Linked DNA regions of Homo sapiens: regions 1 and 2 are each linked to region 3. The links come from fine-mapping of genetic effects on gene expression. A gene starts in region 3. Each other region holds a variant in brackets. All regions are shown on one strand. Distances are between the middles of the regions. Region 1 overlaps CMYA5 (cardiomyopathy associated 5). Region 2 overlaps TENT2 (terminal nucleotidyltransferase 2). Region 3 holds the start of TENT2 (terminal nucleotidyltransferase 2).

What was found. PIP is the estimated chance that this variant, and not a neighbour inherited with it, causes the effect.
Region 1: its variant is fine-mapped to the expression of TENT2 in whole blood (INTERVAL, PIP 0.92).
Region 2: its variant is fine-mapped to the expression of TENT2 in whole blood (INTERVAL, PIP above 0.99).

The regions. Positions count from the first base shown.
Region 1 is chr5:79,703,098-79,713,266 of GRCh38, reverse strand. All of the region lies in intron 1 of CMYA5 (cardiomyopathy associated 5), which reads right to left. Among named protein-coding and RNA genes, the nearest start is that of CMYA5, 18 kb to the right of the region's middle. The variant C/T (reference allele first, on the strand shown) is at 4,907.
Region 2 is chr5:79,644,156-79,654,324 of GRCh38, reverse strand. It overlaps TENT2 (terminal nucleotidyltransferase 2), which reads right to left. Exons shown (of 15, transcript NM_001114394.3): 8 at 9,133-9,202; 9 at 5,632-5,708; 10 at 5,135-5,263. Among named protein-coding and RNA genes, the nearest start is that of TENT2, 37 kb to the right of the region's middle. The variant C/T (reference allele first, on the strand shown) is at 5,364.
Region 3 is chr5:79,607,321-79,617,489 of GRCh38, reverse strand. It overlaps TENT2 (terminal nucleotidyltransferase 2), which reads right to left and starts at 5,049. Exons shown (of 15, transcript NM_001114394.3): 1 at 4,415-5,049. LOC124901014 (a long non-coding RNA gene) reads left to right here and starts at 5,153. Exons shown (of 2, transcript XR_007058840.1): 1 at 5,153-5,348; 2 at 5,470-6,019. RefSeq lists an enhancer at 4,245-5,444.

The sequences.
Region 1 (10,169 bases), 96 kb before region 3:
TGCTGAGAATGTTTAGTGGCCTCCCTGGCCCCCATCCACCAGATGCCATTAGTACCCCATCCCAGGTTGTGACAATAAAAAATGTCTTCAGATATGTAATAGCTGAGAACCACTGGTGAAGGCAGACTCAAGAGTGAGAAAAGACACTCAACCATAGGCAACACCAACCTTGGCTGAGGATACAAGTGAAAAACCATGGAGGATGAGAATGTTCAGGTTCCTGGGACTCCCAGCAAAGGAGTTAAATAGGCTTAACTGTTTAGTGCTGGAATTCTTCAACAGCTACTGAATATTAGCACAGAGCAGAAGCCAGCCACTGCTGTCAAATTCCCATGAATGTTGAGTGGTGGTTACTAAGAGACAGAGCACTTCATCTGAATAGAATATGTCAGGTTGGGATCTTTTTTAAAATAAACCAGTGAGCCATGATAGACTTCTCCCCACCTGTTACACTGACTTTTTTTTCCTAATACAATTATAACTCCATAAAAACATGAAGTATGAGGGCAAATCAGTCCAAAAAGTAGAAGAAATCTGATCAGATTTCCTTCATGGCCTTCCAGCAATTTTTTGTATTAAATTTGCAACAGAGAAAGAGCCCTTACATTGTAGCCTTGAAAATAATAATAGTAATACATTTAAAAATAAAGCCCAGCTCATCTATTAGATGGAATCGGGGTTTGTCCATATACCTAATATAGTGTTTGGCAACACTTTTTTTTTTCTCTGTCATTTTTTAAGAAGAAAAAAAATAGGCCGGGTGTGGTGGCTCATGCCTGTAATCCTAGAACTTCGGGAGGCTGAGGAGGGTGGATCATTTGAGGGCAGGAGTTCAAGACCAGCCTGGCCAACATGGTGATACCCCATCTATACAAAAATACAAAAATTACCTGGGCATGGTGGTGCACACCTGTAATCCCAGGTACTTGGGAGGCTGAGGCAGAAGAATCGCTTGAATCTGGGAGACTAAGGTTGCGGTGAGCCGAGATCACGCACCACACTCTAGCCTGGGCAACAGGCCAAGACTCCAACTCAAAAATAAATAAACAAACAACAAATAAATAAATAAAACACCAATGTCTCACTCCAGCAGATGCTCCTGGGATGAACAGGGATAGGTGAAGTACATCCCAGCCCTGGAGTTTCAGGAGAGAGGACCCCTTTGCCTGGTGCCAGCAGACAGACTTGGGTGGCAGTGTGTTGGTTCTCCGGGCCTGTTTGGATAAACCTAAGAGAGAGTCCTCTGGAGGCCCAGTGATGGCACTCTCCAGCTACGGAGAGAAGCATCCTTGAGATACTGCTGTACCATATGCGAAGAGGGAGTGAAGATGGAAGGGGATCATACTGAAAATTGTGATTGAAAAACAACCATACACGTTCTCTTCAATTTCTGGGTGCTCCTCCACTGAATTTCAATCTAGGCCCACAATTAATGCTGCCAATAATTCATCAAGAAAAATTAATCATTATATTATGGTTACTGACAAATCCTCAAATATTTTCTGCTGGATCAGCTCTGGATGATAACTTATTAGCGCCATTAACTTTGTGTTTTCTTCAAGTACAGTATTAGAAAGTATGTTCTTTTGTGCATACATAAAATGTTTAGAAAATTTCCCAGCCCCCATTTTTTTATTTATTCTCAAACCAATGATCTATAAGGGTATATGGGAATCTTTATCTTTTTTTGAAAGTGGTTAATTTCTTTCTCCAATGTAGCCTTTGCGACCTGAAAGATTCATTTCTCAAGAACATAATTTACAAAGTCTGCTAACAAAACCTATATTGACAATTAAACTTTGCCTCTGTCCTCTTCAACTTTCCAAGCAATTGTCTACGTAGTTTACATTCTTTTTCTCTCTGTACCACCTTTAGTGGCTATTCCACTTTAGACAAATTCTGCCAGGTACGGTTGGTGGCAGGGGTGCCTGATCCCTCTGAAGTTGAAAGCAGATCAGCAGCAGCCTGGCTATTGGTGGAGCTGCCAGTGAAAAGCACCCAGACGACCTACCTGATGGACCCATCATCAGGCTCAAACAGCACCACCAGAAAAACACAAGAAACCTCTTACCTAAAACATAACCAACAGTAAAATAGAACTTATAAAAAGAAGTCTCTAAAATTCCACAGGGGGAAAAAACAAAGAGATTAAGTAAAATCCTTACTGATACATTAGGAAATAACTTGCTAGTAGCCTTTTGATTTCTGACTTGTAAAACCTCAGAATTGGAGATTCAATAGCTTTGTTTTTATAGAGGACTGTATTGGAATAAGTTAGATTATTGGAAAACTTTGCATCCCCAAAATCATTGTTATAAGACTATAGCACTTACATCTCTTCAGGAGTTCTAAAAATTAAGCTGAATTTCCCATAAGATTCTCTTATTAATCACCCACAAAAGAGAAAGACAGAAAAACCCACTAAAAATGATGTGCATTTGATCCAGTAAAATGTTTTAAAAACCATAATACAGACCACCCTTGTTAATACATTTTGCCCCATTCCTCAGTTGAACTCAGGGGAAAGTTCAAGATTTTTAGGTCCTACCTGTAAAAATAAAAAATTTTTCTAATAACCAAATATAAATTTCACTGTAGGATATATAGGAAAACAGAAGCACACAAAAAAAGAAAATTAAAACAACCAGTAATCCCAGCACTCAGATGACCACTTTTAATATATCAGCATTCTTCATTCTTAATCTATCCTGAGATGTGCCTCTTTTACACAAATGATATGTTTTGTAATGTGCTTTTTTTAAATTAAAAAATACATTCTGAACATTTTTTCATGCTATTAAATATACTTTTCCACAACAACTATTCTCAAAACTTTTGGTCTCAAAACTACTTTATACTCTTAAAAATTATTGAGGACCTCAAAAAGCTTTTGTTCATGTGGGTTATATTTATCAATATTTAGGGTAGTAGCAATTAAAACAGAACTTTTAAAATTTTTATTAATTCATCTAAAAATCGTAATAATAACCTACTACATGTCAACATCAATAACATATTTTATAAAAAGTTATTTTCCAAAACACACAAACAAAAACATTTAGTGAGAAGAATGACATTATTTTATATTTTTGCAAATCTTTTAAATGTTTGGGCTAGCAGAAGACAGCTGAATTCTCACATCTGCTTCTGCATTCAAAATGTGAATATGTACTGTTAGTAGGAATATATAAAGAAAATCTAGCCTCACAGAGATATGTAGTTGGAAAAGGAAGGAGTAATTTTTAGATAATTCTGGATATTTTCTTTTTCTTTCTTTCTTTTTTTTTTTTTTTTTTTTTTTTTTTTGAGATGGAGTCTCACTCTGTCACCCAGGCTGGAGCTCAGTTGCATAATCTTGGCTCACTGCAGCCTCCGCCTCCCGGGTTCAAGCAATTCTCCTGCCTCAGCCTCCCAAATAGCTGGGATTACAGGCACACACCACAAGGCCCAGCTAATTTTTTTTTGTATTTTTGTAGACACGGGGTTTCACCATGCTGACCAGGCTGGTCTCAAACTCCTGACCTCAAGTAATCGGCCCACCTTGGCCTCCCAAAGTGCTGGAGTTACAGGCGTGAGTCACCACGCCCAGCTGATATTTTCTTTATACCACACCAAAACTTAAAAAGTAGTCGTTTTTTTAAAGATTAGTTGCAATGTGGACTCTGAAAAAAAAAAAAATCAATGAGCTTTTCATCCTCTATACAGTCATGAGAGAATGAAAGTGGAAAATGCAAATAATGTCTTAGAACTACTATAAAAATAGTTTGGATCTTGTGGATGCCCTGAAAGAAAACCATACTTTGATCACTGATCACTGCAGTTCCACAACTTCCTATTTAATAGTTAACATAGCATTCCATCATGTAACACTTTCTTTACCCAGTACCCTGTTGTTGAACATTTAGATTGTTTCCAAGTTTCCTCTATAATAACTCTGATAAACATCCTTACAGATACATCTTTCAGCACATTTTTTTTTCTTAGAATAATATGGTAGTAGAATTTGAGACTCAAAAGCAAAATAATTTTTTCAGGCTTTTTACACATATTGACAGTTTTCCCTCCAGAGAGGTTGATTAATTTGCATTCCTATCAGTAGTGTGTACGAGAGCCACACATTCTTACCCATACTCTTAGCAACACTGGGTACCATGTGAGCCCTGCCTTGATACCTGTTTGTAGAAAACCAAAGTGTCACTGAGCCGGCTCTTACCTCACTTTCTTCTCTGAAATACAATACTTCAGATTTACTGGAATTCAGCAGAGTACTTCTCTGGTAACTACCATTTTTAAAAAACTAAATTAAATTAAATTTAAAAAAAATTGAGACAGGGTCTTGCTCTGTCACCCAGAGTGACAGAGTGGAGTATGGTGGCGTGATCTCAGCTTACTGCAACCTCCGCCTCCCAGGTTCAACCGATTCTTGTGCCTCAGCCTCCGAGGAGCTGGGATTACAGGTGTGAGCCACCACGCCTGGCTAACTTTTTTCTGTTTTTAGTAGAGACAGGGTTTTACCATGTTGGCCAGGCTAATGTCGAACTCCTGTTGATCTACTCACCTCAACCGCCCAAAGGGCTGGGATTACAGGAGTGAGCCACCACACCCAGCTCCATTTTTTAAAATGTTACTTTCTTTTTTTTTTGAGATGGAGTCTTGCTCTGTCGCCCAGGCTGGAGTGCAGTGGCACAATCTCAGCTCACTGCAAGCTCCGCCTCCTGGGTTCACGCCATTGTCCCGCCTCAGCCTCCCAAGTAGCTGGGACTACAGGCACCCGCCACCACGCCTGGCTAATTTTATTTTTGTATTTTTAGTAGAGACAGGGTTTCACTGTGTTAGCCAGGATGATCTCAATCTCCTGACCTCGTGATCTGCCTGCCTCGGCCTCCCAAAGTGCTGAGATTACAGG[C/T]GTGAGCCACCATGCCCGGCCAAATGTTACTTTCTATTATTATGATTAGTATTTGCCATGTGTCTTCTACTTAACAATAAGTTTCTTGAGACAGAAACTATGTGTCATTATCTTAATATACCCCACAGTGCTAAGTCCGTGGGATAGAAACAGCATGGTAGAAATAGCATTTTTGACTTCAGAGCAGCCTAGGTTTAAATCCTGGCTTCATTACTTATTAGCTATGTGCTATGGTCTGAATGTGTCTCATAAAATTCATATATTGAAACATAATCACTAATGTGATAGTATTAATAGCTGGGGTCATTAGGAGATGATTAAGTCATGAGGATGGAGGCTTCACAAATGGGATTGGCAATCTTATGAAAGAGGCTGAAGGGAGCACTCTAGGGCCTTTTGCCCATCCACTGTGTGAGGACTCAGCAAGGAGGTTCAAGCCCTCACCAGACACTGAATCTGCAGTGCCTTGATCTCAGACTTCCCAGCCTCCAGAGCTCTGAGAAATAAAGTTCTGTTATTTCTAAATTACTCAGTCTTAGGTATTTTGGTATAGCAGTACGGACAGACTAAGGCACTGTGTGAGCTCAGGCAAATTACTTCCCCTTCCTTTCCGGGGCTTGAAGGTCATCATTAGTTCAACAGGTGGCTCATATCTACTTTATAAGGTAGTTATGTGGAAATGATATGTAAAACATCTCGTGTCATACTAGGCAAATGACAAATGAAAATATTTTTCTTCTCTTCCTTTTCCTTTTCAGTGTTGAATTAACCTTGTGAAGTCCAAATTTTGAAGATATGTAAACTCACTTTAATTTATTAATAAGCCTATAATTAAGCCAAAAGGTACCTCTTTAATAATGATTACCTCTGGAAAGTGTAACTAAGCAAAATTAATATGTCTTCTAATTATTCTTCCCTGTATCATTCATTATTCATTGAATTCATTGATTCATCATCATTTATTATTCATTAACTTAGTCAACATCTTTGAGTGTGTATTATGTGTTCAAAAGGCAAGCTACACACAGTCCTTAAACAAATAGAAATGTAAAATGAAATCCTTTCTAGTGCTAGAAACATTCATAAAGTTATGCTGAGTGGGCCGTTCCAGTTGTATGTCTCAGTGGCTGCAGGTGCATCATTCCTGGCTCTATTCTGTTCAAAGCTGACAATTCTTGCAGTGGGGCTTTAACACTCATCATTTAGGACCCTGAAATGTATTCAAATACTAACTAGAAAGCTTTAACATTTTCCAACAAGCCACACCAAGAAAATTAGAGAAAAGACACTAGTGAGGATAGGTGCAGTCCACACTGGAGTTCACACCTAGTTTTGATTTAAAATTAAAACGAAGCAAAAAAACTAAGAAGAGTTATTTGTACATCTAGGAGTGCAGCTCAACTAAGGGTGCAGGGTAAGGAGTGCTGGCTGAAGAATAGCATTGCTAGAAATGGCAACATGAACCTAGGAAACAACTCATGTTCAGTGTAGGGAGACCCCCTGAAACTATTGCTACAGAATAAAAGATGAAATGCTCCTGATTATTGTAAATACAAAATTGCATGCAGGACTGTGTAAAGACAATGCCAGGTTGCACTGCCAGAATGAGCCAACAGCGCGTGATGTGCTTCCCCCCACAGAGAGCCTATGAATGGACGTGCAGTCAGGGAGGTTTCACATCACCAAGATTCCTATCCCAGAAAAGCAGATGTTCATAGCTCTGGGAATGGAATGAGACCCTTGTGGAGAGCCTATAAACGGACGCATGAGGGGCACCTGTTCATATGGATAAGATAGGGCTATAAACGCCCTGATCTTGCCATGACTCTTCTAGGCCTCTTTAGGGTTAAGGCGTACTCCGTTCTGAGAATTTCTGGTCTAACCGGTTGTCTAGCTTCACGTCCTGTTTCTATGGATTGTTTGTAACCAGCTTTTGCTGCAACTGTTACTGCTGATTAATATCTTGCTAATCACAGGTTATGGAAAGACTGTGCTTCTGTTTTAAGGCTCTGTTAGAAATTACAGATGCACACACTATATTGTAAATTCTTATCTCTGTATACTGTACTTCTGCATACAGATGTTATGTTAAAGAATTACTTCATCCCCATGTGACCATCTCACCTCATAATCAAATGACCCTAAATCCCTCACTAACCTACCCCCGCCCTCACTAAACTTAATAATAAATGCTGGTATATCCAGCACATTGGCAGCATCGCAGGACCAGAAGGCGGTGACTCCCCTGGACCCAGCTTTCATTATCTTGCGTGTGTCTATTATTTCTCGACCTGCCGATCCACCTGGGAACAAAGAAAGAGCCCTGTTGCATTGCGGGCTGCTGGCCAGATCCTGCAATAGTTCAGGGTACTAGTAGATGATGGGGAAGGGAGAGAAGAGAAAACTGACACTCGTCCATGTCCCACTCTGTGCCAGGAACATATGATGTCCTTGTGTATCTCCATTCTCATTTACCCCCACAGGTACCTGTGAAGCAGGTAGCAGTACCTGCTTCTTTCAGAGTCTGAGGCTCAAAGAGGTCAAGTGGCTATCAACAGTGCATTCCAGAGAACTGCTAGTATTCAGTTCTCCAAGAGAACTCCAGGAGAGATTGAAAGAAAGTCCTAGACGCTGATTGGTGAGATCAAACTGAAATTGATCAAGACTTTTTCTCTACCAGCTCCTGGATGATATATGCTTAAGTTGGTGTTAGGTCAATATAGACCTTTCTTCAGGTCTGTAGCTCTGTTCAATCAAGTTTAAAATATTTGCAGTGGGAAGATGTGTGGGTGGGAAATAAAAGTTCTTTCAATTCTGAAGCAGGTTTTTAAAAATTTTCTGCAGGCATGTTGTGGTGATTAAGGACTAATGGTAGCTTTGGGTTTCAGTGTTAGGGTTATTATTGATGTCCAAAACATTCCTGATTGTAAAAAAAAAAAAAATACTATATCTATCTATCTATTTATAGTATTTCTGGACATGTTGGGCATAACTCCAGTTTTAAGGGGTTCTTTTGGCTAGCTCTGGCTTAGAGCACATGTGTTGCCAAGGCCTGCAAGAGAAAATTATTTTATTTTATTTATTTATTTGAGACCAAGTCTCACTCTATCACCCAGGCTGGAGTGCAGTGGCACGATCTCGCCTCACTGCAGCCTCCGCTTCCCAGGTTCAAGAGATCCTCTTGCCTCAGCCTCCTGAGTAGCTGGGACTACAGGCGTGCGCCACCACGCCTGGTTAATTTTTGTATTTTTAGTAGAGACAGGGTTTCACCATACTAGGCCCGGCTGGTCTCGAACTCCTGACTTCATGATCTGCCTACCTCGGCCTCCCAAAATGCTGGGATTACAGGCGTGAGCCACTGCGCCAAGCCAGGAGAAAAATGTTTAAAAGCTGTTAGAAATGTTAAGAAGGGGTTAAGGCACTTGTGGTGGTAAGGAACAAACTCTTTCAGGCTAGGTTAAATAGAGGGTTTTTATTTTAAAGAAATAGAGACTTCTCATAGGTTCCAGGGGCCAGAGGTATATTTAGGCCTCCCAGTGAAGGGGAAACAGGAAAACCATCAGGAGTCAAGGGAGCTACTCTATCTCTGATGTGTCAATTTGGCTCTGGTCTCTCCTTGTCTCTACAAGTATTTTCTCTCTCTCTCCCTCTTTCTCTCTCTTTCTCTCCCTCTCTCTCTCTCAACATAGCTATCCCCAAATGGCACCCTCAGTAACAGAAAATTATTTCCCAAAGAGATTAAGAGATCAACCAAGAACAAAGGCAGGGACTCCTGGCTTTCAGAAAAGATATTTTATTGCTTTTCCCTCTTCTAATATCTATATCCAAGAGAACAAAAATAAAGGGGTAGGAAAACTTCTGCTTGTTGGCATGACTTGCTTTGATGAAGGATGGAGCCTCTCCTGGGTGATAGGACCAGTTCGAATGGCTTTCAGACCCTTGCACACAGGGTCTGCTCACAGGATTCTGGTCGCTCTACTTTGGGTGAACTGTTTTAAGGTTTCAGAAACACACTTGAGTGTGATACAGCATTCAGACCCACAGTGGGGGTCATACCCTTTCCCTATGGATTGTCACCTCCCCACCCTTCTACACTCTGGGATTCCTGCCTTGACAGAGAGTTTTTATTTAGCATTAAATACCTTTTTTTTTTTTTCCTGGACACCATCTTAGATACCAAATTATGCTCAGCAATTTTAGCTAATATTCTTCTTTACCACATCTTGGACAGTTTGGACAGTTTCACAGATGTACATTTAGAATTTTTTTTTTAACACAGTCTCACTTTGCTGCCCAAGCTGAAGTGCAGTGGTGCAATCGCAGCTCATGGCAGCCTTGACCTCTGGGTTCAAATCGTCCTCCCACCTCAGCCTCCCAAGTAGCTGGGACTACAGGTGCGCATCACGATGCCCAGCTAATTTTTTAATTTTTTGTAGAGATGGGGGTCTCCCTATGTGGACAAGGCTGGCCTCAAACTCCTGGGCTCAATCAATCCTTCTGCCTCAGCCTTTCAGTGTTGGGATTACAGGCATGTGCCACTGTTCCCGGCCCTAGAATATTTTTTGACTGACAGAAAAATTAATAATTTTCAAGAAAAGATCAAAATAAAGTTGACTAGATCTCCAAAAAGTTGAGAAATGTCCCCCAAACCTCCAAGCTAACTAAAGAGAATCTCTGCCTCCATTTCCAACTTACCAGAGAAGACAATCTGACACTACTGGAGTCTGATTTCTCCCCTGAACCAGGGTCATACATACACTCTATTATAGCCCACCTGTGAGATGGTGACAATTCTCCAAAGGAGGATTACCCTAGGCATACAGACCAAAAGGCTTTAGAAGGAATTAAATTCCTGATAATAGCAAACAGTGATACGATCTCAAAGGAGTTTTGAAACCTCAAAGCAGAAATACCAAGGTGTGTAAGACAGGTCATATTGAGGCCAGAGTGAAAGACTTTTTTGTTCTTATTGTAAAATGGAATGTCCATGCTGGAATAAACAGTGAATACTCAGATTCAGCTGATATTTAATGGGGGAAAACTTCAACCTCATATGGTTTTATCTGTTCACTGACCTATGTTGTATTTTCAATTAAATTTCCTTGGGAAATATTAACTAGTTTATTCTATTGCTTAAACAAAGTGTTGTACATCCACAGAAATAGCAAAATATACTGCATCCTGTGTTAAATGATCTGAGGGTCAGGTAACAAAATCTGAAGAAAAGCCTAGCCCGGGGCCCCCTGCTGGTCCAGCAGACATC
Region 2 (10,169 bases), 37 kb before region 3:
CAAGTAGCTGGGATTACAGCCGTGCACTACCACGCCCAGCTAATTTTGTATTTTTAGTAGAGACGGGGTTTCACCATGTTGGTCAGGCTAGTCTCGAATTCCTGACCTCAAGTGATCCACCCGCCTCAGCCTCCCAAACTGCTGGGATTACAGGCGTGAGCCACCGTGCCCGGCCTCCTTTTTCATTAACTCTTAAATTATAATTAAAATCCTTTCTCAATTCCCCCTCATGCTTTGATGAGTCATCTTTCAAGTATCTGTAGTCAATTATTGACTACTGGAATTTATTCTAGGAAATGTGTTAATCTTTTTAACCTTTTCTACATACAGAGGACCTATTTCCTTTCTCTGCTTATGGCAGAAAAGATATTAAAGCATTTAAGAAGTTAAACAAAACGTAAAGGTCATTTAATCCAACTGTTTGTGTTACAGGTGAGATTAAGGCCAGTGAGGTACAATAACTTCACCAAAGTCACAAAAACTAGTTTTTTGTGGCAGAGCTGTAACTACTCAATACACCTTGCAGACTCTTGTTTGCCCTTTTCCCTCACAGTAATGTGATACTGCCAAGAAAAGCAACTATTTTAATCATCTCATTTCTTCTAGGGAGGAGTAGCTTAAATTTGCCAGTATAGAGATACACATTAGCTCTGGGTAGCTAATGTCCTTCAAGAAAGACCTAGGAATGGCTGAATGCAGTGCCATTAATTATAAACCACTTCAGTAAATGGGACTACTCTGTCAAAAATAAAATGTTTGGCAAAGTCTAAACTAAATTTTAATATGATTTGATCAGACTGGCAAAATAGCAATGTTTAATTTTTTTGTTTTGTTAAGACACAGTCACTCTGCTGGTCAGGCTGAAATGCAGTGGCATAATCATAGCTTACTGCAACCTCAAACTCCTGGGCTCAAACAATCCTCCCACCTTAGCCTCCTGAGTAGCTAGGACTAACGATATGTGCCACCATGCCCAACTAATTTTTTTCATTTTTTATTTTTGTAGATGGAGGAGTCTCACTATATTGCTCAGGCTGGTCTCAAACTCCTGGCCTCAAGCAATCCTCCCACCTCTGCCTCCCAAAGCACTTGGGATTACAGGCATGAGCCACTGTGCCTGGCCCTAATTTAAAATTTTTAATTTGCTTTCAATACCACATTGGGGCATCTGTGATTTACGTACATTTTTCTAAAGAAGTCAGTCAAACTTAAAATTTCTAAGGTAACCAGTAAGAATTAAGGAGTAGGGCACATATTATGGATGATCATGTATGCTAAATGCTTTAGTCAAATCTCATTTTTAAATCACAACTAAAATATAAATAGGGAATGGTGGTGCCACATATTTTTTATATTTTATATATATAAGAAATCCTATTCCATTTTTAATGAAAGTAAACTGTAACCCACAAGAGAACAGAGTTCACTGAAAAAAATATGTTAAGAGTTCACCTGAACATATATTATAAAGTAACATATATTATAAAGTAATATATGTTCAAGATTGACATATATTTTGTAAAATTGGACAAAAATGATTAATGACACAAAGTATTATCTAAAACAGCCAATGTCATATGTTTCAAATTTTTTTAGAGGGGCAAATCAATCATCAAACCAGTATATATTCAAGACTGGTCAGCAATAAAAATACATGTATTAAGATTAGCCTGAACTACTTTAACATTAAAGAAGATTATCAAACCTCTCTAATGACTGATTCATAAAATGATGGCCCATTTAAACTATTTTGTCTCTCTCGATAAGTCAAAAAAATCATTTGAGACCAGCATCCAAAGGAAAATATACTCTCATATATTATAAAACATCTGCAAGTATAGTGAAGTACAGAGAACTTTGCTAAACTGTCCACAAATAACCCTGATACAATTTTGGCACCTACCTTTTCAGTATTTGTATATATACAAATATATATACACAGTTATTATCTTTAAATAAAATTGGTATTATGATGTATGAGAATATATCATGAACATTTTCTTGTATCATTAAATATATTAAAAACATGATTGTTGGTGGCTATGTAGATCTCATATTAGGGTATATCGTAATTAATTTAACCATTCCCCTATTCTAGAAAATTTAAGAGTACTTCTAATCTTCTATTATTTACGTAACACCATAAAAAAATAGCTTTACATGTACATCCATATATGTACCACTCATTATTACGTTAGGATAAATTTCTAGAAATGAAATAACTGAGTCAAAGGACATGAACACAAATATACAACACTGCTTTCTAAAAGAGTTGTACCAAATCAACACTCTCAGCATGATTGTGTATTCCATTTTGTCATTATTAAAAACTGCCAATTTAAGAATATTAATCCCTACATCTGTAATACATGTTCAAGTGAAATTCTGTAAGTAACAGGACAGAGTATAAGATTATATTCTGTCAAGAATGTAGAATGCCAATTTCACCCTAGGAGTATACCATAAAACTTTGATTACCAAGAACGGACAAGGTTGACACACTATGAAATTAAGAACATTAACATAAACACTTTAGTCAAATAATGGCACCCTATCTCCAGACAAAGATGGGATGAAGATGTGTCTAAAGGTAGAATCAAGATTTTCTTGAGAACTAGCTAGCTCTAAGACTACTTCAATTAAGATAAATATGAAAAAATGCTCCCCAAATTCTCCACCATAGAGGAAAGGTTACTAAGCTGTCATAAACAAAAAAAATCAAAATGTGTGTGTGTGTGCCAAAAGTGGAAAGGGTGTAACAATCAGACTGTTTTGTGATGGTCTGTCCATTATTCTGAGATTATATCATTGCTTTTTTGGTATTTTATGCACCATCTTTTATGAAGTGATGGTAGTAATTGGTAGCAGTTTTTTGGTTCTAATACTTAACATAGCAAAATAAAAACTCCAGTTTGGTTCTTTTTTTTTTGGATATTACTTTCCTTGAAATCTAAAAGTCTGAGAATCATGTAATGAACAGGTAAAAGAAAATGTAAGAACATTATTTAAGAAGACCATGTTTTTGTAGAGGAAAAAAGAACATCCACCCTTTACAGTTATTTATTTGTCCCCAACTTTTGGAATTAAAAGACCTGAACTTGACATTTATGTATTTATATTTGGCTAAACATCTTGAAACCTTTGCAAAAAAAACAAAAGCCAGAAAAAATAAAACAAATATTAACAATAACAATTTTTGGGTGTGAAAATTCATGGGAAATGTATTTTTTTTCTGTCCACTTTAGTATATTCTCAGGATTTTCTATGAAATGTATACACAACTTATTCAAAATGAATTTTAAAATGTAAAATAACTTTTAATATCACTACGTTTTAAGTATTATTTTAAACATAATAATTCTGAAACAAAATAGAGAATTCCTGACAACCAATCTCACCTCTGAACTGCTCTTTTTTAAGGCATTGGTAAGACAATCTTTGTTTTTGTCCCAACCACTTCTATCTATCCTCCTATACTAGTAAAAGTGACTCACTATAAAGAAATTCTCAATTTGGGTATCATCCTCCAATCCCTATCCAAAGAAGCCCAGTCTACCAGGAATTAGGTTAACAAAATTGTAATCCCCAACCCTAACCATTTTTGATCTATAGCATAAGGAAAGGTGCCTTCTTCTTTTCCCAGTTCCCAGTATCCTCAGTACAGAAACACAGCTATAAGGGCATCAAATCATCTCAACTTTCCAAGCCCAAGCTGCTGTTGACAAAATTGCTAATATTATCTGTTATCCCTCTCAGAATCTAAATACAAGGAGCACCAAACAATGCAATAAAAGGATATTTTTCAATACTTTTTTTTAATGACTACACTGTAATAATTATTATTGAGCATATCACATGTTGATAGTGCTCTATCAGCAGCTCAATTCACAACCGTGGTAAAAATGTCACATTTTATTAGTAATCTGTGAGTTGTTTAATAATTCACGTTTTGGTAGGTAACAGCTATGAAAATGTGACATTTTACAAGTCAAAAATGTAAGCTTCATGAAGAAGGTAATTGTTTTTGTATGTTGTTCACTGCTGTATTCTCAGATCCTAGAATACCTAGCATTTATTTGGTAGGTATTCTATACATATTCATAGAATGAAGAAATGAGTATTATATATGCTAAAATATGTTTTCTCCTATTATTGTAATCTTTGGAAACCAAGACTCTAAACTGTGGAAGTATCACCAACCCAGAACAGATCAAGCCCCAGACATCCTGGCAAACGGTCTTCTACTACATTCATACCAAGTCTTTCACTCGGTCTTCATGTCACCACATATTCATATGTTCAGTTGGTTAGTTATTAAACATCTCAGTCTCCTGGTCTAATAACTACAAAACAGTAGATGCATCCATCTTTTAACAACTCTTGGTGTCAGGCTAAGTAGAAAGTATAAAGCAGCTTAATGTTTATTTCTTGGATTGCTACATATGTAAGATATTTTTGAGAAATATGAAAGTAAGGGTTTCAAATAGATCCAGTCAGTCTGTCCTATACGTCTAGGAAATTTTCAGTACCGTAAAAATTCTCACACTTATGAATGGTCCAAATTACAAGTGTTCACTTATTACTGTTTGCCACTATGCATGCGACAAAAGTATAGCTTTTACCAGAATGGCCTCATAAACAATGACTAACCAGACAAAATTAAAATTTGGGAGCCAATCTGATAAAACAGCCCTATGAAGATAAAATCTAGTTAAGGAGGGCAACTCAGAGATTAAAAGCTTCTTTAACCAACAGGAAAATAATTTAATTCCTGTCTCAAATTCAAAATTAAAAATATGATGAATAGTACTTGAGCTAACTTTTATAGGCCTTTTGAACATTCGTCTGCTTCAAGATAATGGGTCCACAATACAGTGGTGAAAGTTCTTTGAAAACAAAAGTGACTATAGAAAAACTTCCAAAAAATAAAAAAAAAAACAGTGAAACTTCTATATTTTCCAAGGAATAACACTTCTGAAACATTTGTCCAAAGCAACAAAACAGGAAATGTGTTTCATGGACCTTAGAAAGAACTTTTAAAACAATACTATTTGAAAATAGGGTCAACAGAGAAGACACCATAATAAAGCTGTCTTTTACTTTTAAAAATTGGGTAAAACCCCATTATACTTACTTTGTAAATAGTGCAAAACCATCAATACAAGACTATAGCTGCTTAAAGTACCACGACTGGCATCATTTATCTGATGGTGACTTGCCCACTTCTTAATCACCAGCACTAACGGACGAACTCGATTTTCAACTGAAAGTAAAATTAAAACTTAACATGGTAAGAGACGTTATAGTTTCTTTGAAAGTTTACATCATTTCCCAGCTCCATACCAAAACAAAGAACACTGTCT[C/T]CGTGTATATTAAACACTGTGTCTGTTCACTTTGTGTCTTATGTCTAAAACTTACCTTAGTTACCTTTTAAAAATTATCAATTATTAAAATGCCACTTGATTCACCTATAACTGACAGTATATGATTTTAGTGTAGCAACATATACAAATAAAATAAGATACACTATACTTAAACACAACTAAAGAGATGTCACTATTTATGCCAAACATCTTTAAAAATGAATAAAGAAAAAAAGGCTAATTTTTAATAAACAAACAACAAACTTACGGTATGCATAAGTTCTGAGAAGGAATGTGTTTCTTATTCCAACAATATTGTTTACATTCAAGTCAAACTCCACACAACTATTTAAGAAAAAATAAATAAATAAATAAACTTTAGCTGAAGAACAAAAAAACTTCCTTCCTAATAACTAAATTAATGCTCATCCATCCCATGATGCAAAATAGTATGGGCCCAAAGGCCATAGATCTGTGTTTTTAAAATGACACACTAAAGAAATAAGAATGAACAAATACTCAGTATGTTATTTCAATGTGATCTGATGAGTACTGAAAATATAAAATAAGATTCCAGTGGAAAGATCAGTAACATACTGCTAAGGCTCCAATTACCCCAAATAAAATTTTTAAATCTTTTTTTTTTTCTTTAAAGAGATGGAGTCTCGCTCTGTGGCCTAGGCTGGAGTGCAGTAGCACAGTCATAGCTTACTCCAGCCTCAAGCTCCTGGGCTCAAGCAATTCCCCCACCTCAGCCTCCCAAATCACCAGTATTATAGGTAGGAACCACCATATCCAGCCGAAAATTTTTAAATCTCACAAGTTTCCAGATAAACAAAACTATGTGACCAAAAACATTTCTGAGCAAGTTATCCCATTAAGTTATACACTCTCAAATAATCTGGAATTATAGCATCATATACTTTAAAACAACAGGAATAAAAAGCCAAATTAAATACAGGGGAAATAATTTAAAAGCTCTGTCTACACATTATATTTCCTCTAAAAAGGCTAGTAAATTACAGTATCATGTCAAATTTGGCTATTGATACCTGGGAAGAGCTATCTATACTACTCAAACACATAATGATTACTTCTTTGAAAGCAAATATATGCAGTTCATAATTTAGAAAATACGGCAATAATGATGCAATGTATAAAAAATGGCTAAACTCATAAAAAATTAAGGATTACTTTATGTAAGTCAGTTCTACTCATACCTATGCGAGATCCCAACTTCTAAATACTAATTTTTTCTGTGAAAAGACTGTCTAAAATAAAAACAAAATATTTCTATATTAATTATAGCTTTTAAGTATAAAATTTGAAATCTACCATTTCAGTCTTTCTTATTTGGTGGAACAAAAGAAAATCTTACAATCTTTCCATTATCCATGCATATTAATAAAAATGGATAGTAGTATTAACACTTCAGATATTATACGTTATTTGGCTTTGGGAAACTTACAGTAATAATAGAGTTATTCTTTGTGTTTGTGTAATTCTAACACTGAAGCCAATTTGTACTACATCCACATAGTAACTCAATAGAAAAGAAAAACACATAGATGGCAACTAGTCTGCAGTTAAAAATTTTTCCAAAATTGAATTCAGGGCTTTAAAAATATCCACAGTTCCTGCTTCAAACACTACTTCTAGAAATACTAAAAAAGTGATCCTCAATATGGAAAGCATTTATGCACAAAATACTTATTTATATTATCTAAAAACCAGAAACACACCAAATGTTCAAATACAGGAGAATGGTTAAGTTAATGACAATTTATTCACTCAATGAAATACTATAAAGCCATTAAAAATGATGCTGTAGAACACTATTTAATGATATAACCAAATATTCATGAGATATGGTTCTGTTGGGAAGCAGGATTTGGCCAGGTGCAGCGGCACACTCCTGTAATTCCAGAACTTTGGGAGGCTAAGGTAGAAGGATTGCTTGAGGCCAGGGGTTCGAGACTAGGCTGGGCAACATGGCGAGACCCTGTCTCTACCAAAAATACAAAAATTAACCAAGTGTGTTGGTGTGTGCCTGTTGTCCTACCTACTCAGTAGGCTGAGATGGGAGGATCACTTGAGTCCAGGCATTTGAGGTTACAGTGAGCTATGATCATGCCACTGCACTCCAGCCTGGGCAACATGGTAAAACCCTGTCTCTTAAAAAAAAAAAAAAAGCTTAGGAACAAAAAAAGTTTGCAGGATGATCTTAAATAGAAAAAGAATAAAACTACCTTTGTAACTATAACTACAACCATATATTATTAAAAACTTATAATTAGCTAATATTATAACTTTATGTTTTATCTCCCTATATATTTTATATCTGCTTTAGGAAAATCTGACACAATTTACTTGGCAGAAATTTAATAAGTATTTATAGATCTGATTGATGTTTAGATATATAAAGGAATGGCTTGAGCCAGGCATTAAAGTTTGTTTAAAATATATATATTCAGTCATCATTCATAGTAGCTACGTTCTATAAAGTTGCTGCAAACACTGAATTAGTGAATACTATACCATTGCTCCTAGGGTAAGCACAGGGTTAGGTATCTGCCAGCCTGGTCACATTTTCATAAACTCATCAATACATAACCAAGTTTTATGTTGTGCTTCTATTTGAAGACATTGTATTTAATATATACGGTTGATTCATTAACAGTGGACTCATGGCCAAGAGTACTATAACTCATGCCTGAGCGAAGCCTACCTAACACATATTTTCTCCATAGGGCACCATCACAGCCTTCTTGCACTTGGGGACACTAGAAAGTAACTCCACACTATGCTTGGGGGCCATTCTAAATAGCAAAAAAGCACAAAAATGTGAAAAATATGGCATTAATTAGACTGTGAGAAGGTTATTTGTTTACAGTATGAAGCTGAACAAGAAGACAGTGTGTCACCTAATTCTATCTCAGCTGGAAACATGGTATTGGGTGATCTGAAATTTTCATTACTCTGTGTATGTCCACGAAATGACCACAAAAGCGTATGAATATTCATGTAGGCAGTTACAAATAACTTTTAGCAAGTAGGCAAATTCGTGAAAACACAAACTATGAATGATAAGGATCAACAATGTGTGTGTGTGTGTGTTTGTGGGCACAATTTCAGTATTAATTTTGTAAAACTGGACAAATTTTATGAAATCTGTCACAATTCTATTTTTAGAAAACAGTAACAAATCAGTTTAACTAATGAAATAATCAACATCTATTTACAAAACAATTCCAATGCCCATAAGACATTCAGAACCCAAGCTGGTAGAATATATAAATGTAAATTTTGAAATGGAACAAGTATATTTTGCTGTTTTCCTTTCATATCTATTACTCTAGGTATTATATGTATCTTTCATAAAAATGAAACACAACTTGTTTAATCATAACTGTATTTAAAACAAACCCCTTGATATTAGTACATGTCAAATTTCATTAATTATATTCTTCAGAATGCATTACACTTCCAAAAGGCAAGAGATCATTTAAAAATCTAAAATACAAATATGTACTCTTTAAATTAGATAGTCTCACATATTCAAAATGTCAAGCAGAATAGCTAAGTACAGTTAAGCATAAAGTATTGCTCAATTTTAAAAAACCATTTCAAACACCAAGTCAAATGATTTCTAAAAACTGATTAAAATAAACTGTAATGCTACAACATACACTTCTTAATTATCTTTATCAGATGAGTATCTAAAAATGATCTAAAGGAACTAAAAAAAGAAAGCTCATTAATTATTTACCTGACTTTATCCCTGAACTTCACAATTGGCACTTTTGCTCGAATCAGCTGAGGTCTCTCAATGTAGCCCGCTGAAAGACAAAAGATAATGTGAATAGCTGCAAATGTTTCTAGAATTCACAGTGTTCCAACGCACATTTTTTAAAAAATAGTATTTACTAAGCTAAAATAATTTAAGAAAACGTCTTTGAAAAAGAATACAAGTGAGGACATTATCAAATTCTTCTAAGGTTGGAGGCTCCAGTAATACCATTTAGGGGGCTTTATATTAAGGTTATTTTCAGGAATGTGATCTAATATAGTATCTATAGAGAAGTTCATTAGACCACTGTAAGAGTGAAAATATATCTAGGCTAGCAGCAGAGGGAATAGCTAATTTTGGTACAGCACACAGTAAGGTATCATGGTAACTGTAGAAATCATAATTACAGAGTCTTATGTGTGGAAATGCTTTGCAACATGATACACGGGGCTTGGATGCATTCGATAAGTGTGATCTCTATGAGTGAAAAATACATATATTATATACATGATCTCTACAAGTGAAAAATTCAGATCAGCTTAGTGAACACCAATTATTGTGCTATTATACAAAGGAGTATGAGTTGATAGGAAATTCAAATACACATACAGATATGTATTACATACATACATATATCATATACAACATATAATAAAATGTACATACATATTTTTATTCCATCAAACTAAAAAATTAGAGTTGAAAGTAATATATACTTATCATAGAAAATTAGGAAAATACAGAAGTGTGTAAAAATGAAATTCTGAAAATCTTTCCCAAATGAGCAATTTTCTCATTTTTTAACTACAGAAAAAGTAGTACCGGGATTTTTTAAAACCTGAAAATTTTCTGTTACAATGTTTTACCATCAAAATTACAGAATATATATCAGCTGGGCTTGGTGGTTCACACCTGTAATCCTAGCACTTTGGGAGGCCAAGGTGGATGTATCACTTGAGGCCAGGAGTTCAAGACCAGCCTGGCCAACATGGCGAAACCCTGTCTCTACTAAAAAT
Region 3 (10,169 bases):
TTGACCATAGAGATAAGTTCTGTTAACAGAGTAGAAATAATTTTAGAAATACAGAAAAGTAGCTAGTTAAAAATAAATTACCAAAGAAAAAAACACTCAATAGGTAATATAAAAAAGGCAATATAATCAGTTACCTGATTCTTACAAAGAATGAATATACTGATTTTTTTAAAACTGAGTTACTATATAAAATTTATTATATATTATTTATATATGACACTACCTTATACATTTGTGTTTATATATCACAAGTTTTATATGGAGGATGACAAGAGGGTACAAAAAGTGCTAAATTCTCATTTTCAGTAAAAATAAATCAAAAGAATGAACTATAGAAGCTTTATTCTTTTTTCTTTTCTTTTTTTTTTTAAACAACAGAGTAAAGTAAAACTAGGTAGCCAGAAGAATTGAAGTAGCTGCCTCTGGGGATTGTGACTAGGAGGGCTGGAAAAACTATGAGAGACAACAGGGGAGAAAAAGAAAAATCTGGGAAGAAATTAATAAATCCCTCACAAACATTGTTCCTTGTTTTTTCAATTCCATAAGATTAAAATTCCCTAGGTTGGCCACAGATAACAAGGCTCACCAGTCCAGGGTTCATAACAGATTGTGGACAAAATTCTATGAACCATCATCAGACCTCATCCTAAATGCCTGACTCTAATTTGGACCAGAGACAAGGTTAACCTCCAGAAAACAAGAGTCTGTCAACTTTCTTTAGCAGACCCTTATGTCTTTTTACAAGAGATTTTTAAAAAAGAAAATAATCCTGTCATATTTCCTCACCTGTACACCCTAGCTTCTTCAGAGGAAATGGAAATATCTTGAACTAAGCAGCATTCCAGGGAATCCCCTAGCAAAAATACATACAATAATCCTGGGCTGGGCAGTTGCTCATGCCTGTAATCCCTTGGGAGGCTGAGGCAGGCAGATTGTTTGAGCCCAGGAGTTAAAGACCAGCCTGGGCAACACGGTAAAACCCCATCTCTACAACAAATACAAAATTAGGCTGCACGCCTATAATCCCAGCACTTTGGGAGGCCGAAGCAGATGGATCACCTAAGGTCAGGAGTTCAAGACCAGCCTGACTAACATGGTGAAATCCCTACTAAATACAAAAAAAATCAGCCAGGCGTGGTAGCACATGCCTGTAATCCCAGCTACTTGGGAGGCTGGGACAGGAGAATCGCTTGTACCTGGGAGGCGGAGGTTGCAGTGAGCCAAGATCGCGCAATTGCACTCCAGCCTGGGCAACAAGAACAAAACTCCATCTCAAAAAAAAAAAAAAAAAAAAAAAAAATTAGGCCGGGTGCAATGGCTCATGCCTATAATCCCAACACTCTGGGAGGCCGAGGTGGGCAGATCACCTGAGGTCAGGAGTTCGAGACCAGCCTGGCCAACACGGCAAAATCCCGTCTCTACTAAAAATACAAAATTAGCTAGCGTGGTGGTGGACACCTGTAATCCCAGCTACTTGGGAGGCTGAGGCAGGGGAATCGCTTGAACCTGGCAAGCAGAGGTTACAGTGAGCAGAGATCGCACCACTGCACTCCAGCCTGGGCGAAAAAACGAGACTTCGTCTCAAAAAAAAAACAAACACACAACAAAAATTAGCCAGGTGTGGTGGTCTGCATCTGAAGTCCCAGCTACTCTGGAGGCTGGGGTGGGAGGATCGCTTGAGCCAGGGAGACGGAGGTTGGAGTGAGCCGAGGAGACTGTGCCACTGCACTCCAGCCTGGTCAACAGAGCAAGACCCTGTCTCAAAAACAAAAAAAAAAAAGAAAAAAGAAAAATCTTGGATTGCCAGATTCAAGACTGGCAACGAACACTTTTCACCCTTTGCTCAGGCTCACACTCCTTCTTGGCCTTTTTTACTCTGGTTCCCTAACCTAATTTCCCATAAAACATAGGATCCTACTTCATAGGATTTATGAGAAAATGATATTAAATACAATTCACTGTAACAAATTTTGCTTGATAGTTCATTTTGTTGGAATAGACACTACAAATCTAGTGAATGGAAGAAATATGTATTCAGAAAAACTAGAATTAAAATCTTGTACTTTCAGGTTTATTTAAATCGGTTCATAGCAAAAAGCCTAGATACTTTTGTTTATACCTATAAAAAATATGCTGTTTTTCCTCTATAACTGAATAAGGTCCATGTATATTAAGATTTGAAGATGCAAAATGACATCAAGAGCCCAGGCCTCACCTTGTTTTCATCTCTTACACAGCCAAATCCAAACTAAGTCTAAAGATGACTTGTGGCTCAGAACTACTCTACCAAGTTAATGACCAAATTATCCCCAGCTTAAAAACTTAGATTGAGTCCACAGCCAGATGTTTAGTCTAGGGCAGAAATCTAGTTTAGCATATTCCAAATTCCCAGAAATATATCAAGCTCTGGAGCCCCTGCAAAACAAAGGATCTGTCAGCCTCTCCTCAGTATGAATTTTGGCCCTCAAGTCAGGCTCTTTTTAAAGAAGGTAGGCTTCAAGTAGAGGAAAATCATTCCGACGCATTCGTTCTATGCTCACCAATATAGGTATTCTGAAAGACATCTAGAGTTGAGGAAGTAAATGAAACGCCTATGAATTTCTATGCCTTTTTCTAATACATTTCACATTGATTTTGATGAAAATAAAAATGACATCAAAACAATTATCATAAACAACATAATCATTTTTTTAAAGAGACTGTAGAGTTTCACAAAATACAGTAAAACTATTACTGTAACAGAAATAAGGGGACCTCCACAAAATTTTAAATCATTTTCTTCATACTCTGAATGAAAGGTTTCTTAAGTAGAGATTAGCTATATAAAACGTTACTCCACATTAACTATGGTCTTCTACCATCTCCTATGTGACAAATTTTATGATAGATACATAAAATCCAGATATTGGCAATATCCAATTTTCCTTACCTTAAAAGTTATCAGTTCCACAATCTGTACTTGACCATGAAAGAGTATACTGGTACTTTCTTTACGGAGAAAACCTTAAAGACGGTTTCCTAAGGTGGACCCAATGGGAAATTACACAGGTTTACATGAGACAAGGTAGTAAAAGAGTAGATTAATTCGGCCGGGCACAGTGGCTCACGCCTGTAATCCCAGCACTTTGGGAGGCCGAGGCGGATGGATCACCTGAGGTCAGGAGTTGGAGACCAGCCTGGCCAACATGGTGAAACCCTGCCTCTACTAAAAATACAAAAATTAGCCAAGCATAGTGGCACGTGCCTGTAATCCCAGCTACTCGGCAGGCTGAGGCAGGAGATCGCTTGAACCCAGGAGGCAGAGGCTGCAGTGAGCCAAGATAGTGCCATTGCACTGTAGCCTGGGTGACAAGATCAAGATTCCGTCTTGCAAAAAAAAAAAAAAAAAAAAAAAAAAAGATTAATTCCTAGTAATTTCTAGTTATAAAGTATTTGGTCCTGGAATTTGCAACCTGGAATTTCTGTCCTCAACTTGACCTCTCCTCCAACAAATTAGAGAACACTCAAGGTTATATATAATTCCTTCATCAGGATTCTTTAGAAAGCAGAATATACCTAGAATGAAAACCAGAAATTTACTGGCTAAACCAAGATACTGTCCATTTTGTCCAAATACCTTTGATATCTCAAACCCACTTTTCTCCACAATACGAAAAATCCAGTTCCTAAATCCTGCCAACCCACTGTGAAAACTACTTCCAGGTTTTGAACAGGATATTCCTTTTGGTTAAGAATTAAATTACACCCAAGTGTTCAAAAAAATAATCTAGTCACATGGCTCCAAATGGGCATTTCTTAAACAACTCATAAACGGCCTATTTCACATGGAACCTGTTACAGGACATTTCCAGAACAGACATAATTAGGGCTATTCACACCAACAAAGTAACGTCACTATTACTGGCTATTAATCAGTATAAATTAATAGCCTTATGGCTGTTAATCAGTACGTGTTAGAAGCCTGGTGGTACTGAACCATACAATATGAAGATATTTACAAAAGTTACTATGTTACCTGTAATATAAAAACACAGATTTAGTAATCAGTTACAATCTCTTTCTTCACAAAATCATACACTGCACATGTGTTATTTAGCTTGTGTTTTACAGTTTCCCTTTGTTTCTTCTCTGTTCACCCTAATGAAAAATATCTGCTACTTTAAACAAAGAGTTGAAAGAGATAAGACAAGTAATTTAGAGAATCCATAAGTTTTGAGACATATAAGCCTTTCGTGTTCTCACCTTGAGAGACGAAGAGCTTTTCTACAAAGGCTGAACAAGAAAAGAAACGCACACAACAGTCTTAACCTGTGCATTTTCCTATAAAGTGAAAAGCTGAAGCAATTTCATGCCATTTAATTAAGGCTTAAAAGATAAATGCCTTTTAAATTTTTTAATTAATCCAGCTACGTACCTTAGTTCTTCACCACCCTTTGAAACACCATGCAAGGGTCCCAAGACTATCTTCCTCTTTTGGTCCTGGAGTGGTGGACGAGGCAGTACGCGAGGAATAGAAAACGAGTAAGCAAAGTAAGCGGTCCTAAGATTCTTCAAAATGTACAGCAGCCCAGATGCCGCCCATAAATTTGGAATAACCAAGAGATACTGCTGGAACCTCCCACGCAAAACAAAACGCTACCGTTTCGGAAAAGTTTCCCGTGCCCCGCCGCCGACCTGGGCCTACACTGCTGCGTTCCTCTCCGAAACCCCCTAAACTCACAGGTGTCCTCCGGGAAGGGCTAAGCAGGGCCTACCCGCACTGCCCGTTCAGAAGTTCTAAGGCCCGAGCTGGGCGTACTTGGTCGTAGCTTTCTCCCGAACCAAAGGAGGTAGTGGTGGCCCGTGGGACAGCTAGGCCCAGCTCCGGCTCCGGCTGAGATCTAACCCCCCTCACGGCTGCCAGGGGAGGAGCAACACAAGAAAAGGTAGGGGCTGCAAGGATATAGAAGGTTGGGGGCGGTGGCAAAAAGCGGAAGAGCAAAAAGTCGCCGAAAAAGCGGCGTAGAAAACCCTGTCAAAGACACCCGGAAGACCGACGTGACCCCGGATGAGAATAGGCAGCGGGGAGCGAAAGGTCACACTTCCGGTGGCCGCCTCCCTCCCACCCCCCAACCCCCCCCACCCCCCAACCCCCCCCACCCCCCCCACCCCGCCTATGAGCGCTTTGCTTGAATGCGCAGGCGCAAGACAGCCGGATTTGAAAGGAGTTTCTTAACTGCTGCCAGCACAAGTTGGGAAAGGGTTAGGACTGCACTAAGAGGGGTGGAGCAGGCAGTCGCCGGAGGGCCACTTCTGGGCCCCTTGCCTGAACTCACGTGCAGCCGTTCTAGCTGTAACAGACGTTTTCTGTGGGTCCTTCGTGTGTTGGCCGAGTGACTTGTCCCCAGAGAAGCCTTTCTTTAACCAGTGTTCCCCTAATCTTCTCCCCCGGAGCAACATTAAACTTTATCTGTTCTTTTGCCCCTCCAGTAACCTGAGAGCTTCTTTGGAAGGAAAATGCTTTCTTTGGCCGGACGCGGTGGCTCACCCCTGTAATCCTAGCACTTTGGGAGGCTGAGGCGGGCGGATCACGAGGTCAGGAGTTCGAGACCAGCCTGGCCAACATGGTGAAACCCCATCTTTACTAAAAATACAAAAATTAGCCGAGCTTGGTGGCGTGCGCCTGTAACCCCGCTACTCAAGAGGCTGAGGCTGGCGAATCGCTTGAACCCGGGAGGCGGAGGTTGCAGTGAGCCGAGATCGTGCCACAGCACTCCAGCCTGGGCGACAGAGCAAGACTTTGTCTCAAAAAAAAAAAAAAAAAAAAATGCTTTCTTTCTCTCTAAAGCCTGGACTTAGCGCCTTGCCCATAGTAATAGCTGGTATTCACTAATTCAACAAATATTTATTGATATCGCCTCTTGAGTGAGCTTTAATAATTTGTAGAAATGTCTAAATTGTTTAATAATGCAAATCTGTTAGCTGTATTCCTTTATTGTCCACTTAATGTCTATAAAATCTGACCCCTCAGGTTCTGAAATTGGTAATTTGTGTGTCATCTTTTTTTCTGATCGATCTGGTGAGGGGCTTCTCGGTTTACGGATCTCAAATCTCAAAGCCCGTTTTTGCTTTCTTGGATTTTCTCTACTGGTTTTCTGTTTTCTATTTTATTGATTTCTGCTCTTATGTTTATTGTTTCCTTTACTCTGCTATTTTTTAATTTTTAAATTTCTTGTTTTGTTTCTCTAGTTTCTTAACTCAGAAACTGATGACCATTAATTTTAGATGTCTCTTGTTTGTACAGGCATTTGGTGTGATAAGTGTCCCTCTATACTGTTTTAGCTACATTCCACATATTTTGATATATTGTATTTTCATTTTCCTTCATTTCAAAATACTTTGTAATTTCCCTATTGCTTTCTTTTTTTGACCATGGGTTTTTTGTAAGTGTTGGTCTGCAAATGTGGAGGAGTTTTCCAGGTAGCTGCCTGTTACTGATTTCTGATTTAATCCCATTGTGATCAGAGAAGGTACTTCGTACACTATTAATAATTTTAAACTTATTGACACTTGTTCTGTGGCCCAGAGTATATAGTCTGTCTTGGTAAATACTCACTGTGCATTTGAAATGAATGTGTTTTTTGCAGTTGTTGCATGGAGTGTTCTATAAATGTCAATCATGTCAAGTTGGTTGATATTAGTGTTCAAATCTATATCCTTTCTGATTTACTGTCTACTTATTCTACTAATTATTGAGAGTATTGAAATTTCTGACTATTACTGGTTTTTTTCAATTGTAGTTCTATCAATTTCTGCTTCATGTACTTTGCAGCTCAGCTATTAGTTGCATAAACATAGTTATTCTCTTATTTGTATGAATTTATCCTTTATGAAAGTTTCATTATTATGAAATTATCCACTTTACAAATGACCCTCCTCTTTGCTGATAATGTTCTTTGCTCTGAAGTATATTTTGTCTGATAGTATTACAGCTACTTAGGCTTTCTTTTGTAGGGTGTTAACATGGTATATATAAGGAAAACATAATTCCAATTCTAGATAAAGTCCTCCAAAAATTGAAGAGGAGGGAATACTTCCCAGCTCATTCTGTGGGGCCAGCATTACACTAATACCCAAACTCTAGATATTAAACAAGCAAACTATGGACCAATATCTCTCATAAACATAATATGCACAATTCTAGTCACTTTTATTTCACAGTATATAAAAAAGATAATACATTATATCCAAACAGGTGCTTATCCTAGGAATGCAAGGTTGAATTAGCATTGTATTGACCATAAAAGAGTATACTGGTACTTGCTTTACGGAGAAAACTTTAAAGACTGTTTCCTAAGGTGGACCCAATGGGAAATTACACAGGTTTACATGAGACAAGGCAGTAAAAAGTAGATTATATAAAAAAGATATATAAATATATAAATACATAAAAATATATAAAAAAGATAATACATTATAACCAAACAGGGGCTTATCCTAGGAATGCAAGGTTGAATTAGCATTGGTAAATCAAGCAATGTAATTTACCATATTAACAAACTAAAAAAGAAAAACCATTTGATAATCTCAATACATGCAGCAAATGCATTGGACAAAATCCAGTATCCATTCCTAAGATTACAAGGAAACTTCCTCAACTTGATAGAGAGTGTCTATAAAAAGCATCACACTTAATGGTGAAGAACAGTGCTTTCAACTTAAGATCAGGAACAAGGCAAGGATTTCTGCTCTGACAACTTATGTTCAATATTGTACTGGGGATTCTAGCCTGTGCAATAAGGCAAGGAAAAAAAAAAGGCATTCAAATTAGCAAAGAAGGAAGTAAAACTGGTTTTATTTGTTTTATTTATTGAAAACTCTGGCACAAAATCTACAAAAAACTATCAGATCAAATAAATGACCAAGACTACAGGTCGTAAAATCAATACACAAATGTCAATGGCATTTGTAGTACACCAGCAATAAACAATCTGAAATTGAAATTTAAAATACCATCTACAACAGCATCAAAAATTTGAGGCGGGCATGGTGGCATGCACCTGTAGTCCCAGCTACTTGAGAGGATGAGGCAGAGAATCACTTGAGCCCAGGAGTATGATGGCATTATGATAGGTCACTGCAGCCCCAGAAAGAGAATGGAAAGACAAGCCAAAAACTGAAGCAGCTATTTGCAAATCACGTATCTGATAAGAATGTGTGTGTGTGGTTGTTTTTTTTTTTTTTTTTTTTTTTGAGATAGGGTCTTGCTGTGTCTCAAAAGAGCTGGAGTGTAGTGGCATGCTCACGACTCACTGCTACCTCGACTTCCCAGGCTCAAGTGATCCTCCCACCTCAACTTCCTTAGTGCTGGGACTACAGGTGTGCACCACCATGCCTGATTAATTATTGTATTTGTTATAGAGGATGGAGTTTCCCCATGTTGCCCAGGCTGGTCTCGAACTCCTTGACTCAAGCAATCCACCTGCCTCAGACTCTCTAAGTGCCGGAATTACAAGTGTGAGCCATCATGCCAGGCCCTGGTAAATAATTTATATCCAGGCTGGGCAAGATGGCTCACGCCTGTAATCTCAGCACTTTGGGAGGCCGAGGTGGGTGGATCACAAGGTCAGTAGTTCGAGACCAGCCTGGCCAATATGGTGAAACCCCGACTCTACTAAAAATACAAAAATTAGCCTGGCATGGTGGCAGGCGCCTGTAGTCCCAGCTACTTGGGAGGCTGAAGCAGGAGAATCACTTGAACCCGGGAGGCAGAGGTTGCAGTGAGCCGAGATCACGCCATTGCACTCCAGCCTGGGTGACAGGGCAAGACTCTGTCCACAAAAAAAAAAAAAAAAAAAAAAAAAAAAAAATTTATATCCAGAGTGTCTATTTTTTGAACTCTCATACCTCAATAGTAACCCAAAAAAATGGGCAAAAGGTTTGAAGAGACATTTCATCAAAGAAGCCATATATGGATGACAAATAAAGGCATGAAAAGATATGCAACATCATTAGTCATTAGAAGAAATACAGATTAAGAGAAAAATATAAATTAAGACCTCAACAACATACCCTACCTATTTGATGGTAAATTCCAAAAGACTAGTCATACCAAGAATTTGTCAGAACATAGAGCAACTGAAACTCATACACTACTAATGGGAATATGAAATGGTACAAGCACTTTGGAAAAAACTTAGGAAGTTTCTTAAAAGGGTAAGCATACATTTATTTGCATATGATTCAGACATTCCATCCCTAGGTATTTACTCAAAAGAAATGAAAGCACATGTCCACAGAAGGACTTGTACACAAATGTTCATAGCAACTGTATTTGTAATTACCTGTAATCCCAACCCTTTGGGAGGCCAAGGCGGGAGGATTGCTTGAGGCCAGGAGTTGGAGACCAGCCTGGGCAACTTGGCGAAACCCTGTCTCTACTAAAAACAAATAGCAATCTCAGCTACTAGGGAGGCTGAAGAAGGACAATCGTGTAAGCTTAGGAGGTGGAGGCTGCAGGGAGCTGTGATTGCACCACTGCTGCACTCCAACCTGGGTGACACAACAAGACCGTGTCCCAAAAAAAAAAAAAACAAAAAAAAAAACCTAAAAAACCTGTAACACAAATACCCATTAACAGGCAGATGGGCTGAGAGTGGTCACACCTGTAATCTCAGCACATTGAGAAGCCAAGGTGGGAGGACTGCTTGAGGCCAGGAGTTGGAGACCAGCCTGGCAACACAGTGAGACCCCCATTTCTACCTATACCAGGAGTATCCAATCTTTTGGCTGCCACACTGGAAGAAGAATTGTCTTGGGCCACACATAAAATACAATAGCTGATGAGCTAGAAAAAACAAAATTGGAAAGAAAATATCATAATGTTTTAAGAAAGTTTACAAATTTGTGTTGGGCTGCATTCAAAGCTGTCTTGGACCATATGCAGCCTGTGGACTGAGGTTTGGACAAACTTGCTCCTACCTCCTAGGGAGGTTGAAGAGGGAGGATTACTGGAACCCAGGAGTTTGAAGCTGCAGTGAGCTCTGATTCTACCACTACAAGCAGAGTGAGACCCTATCTCTAAAAACAAAACTAAAAATAAATTTAAGATAAAAATTAAAACCAGACCAGGCACGGTGGCTCACGCCTGTAATCCCAGCACTTTGGGAGGCCAAGGTGGGTGGATCACC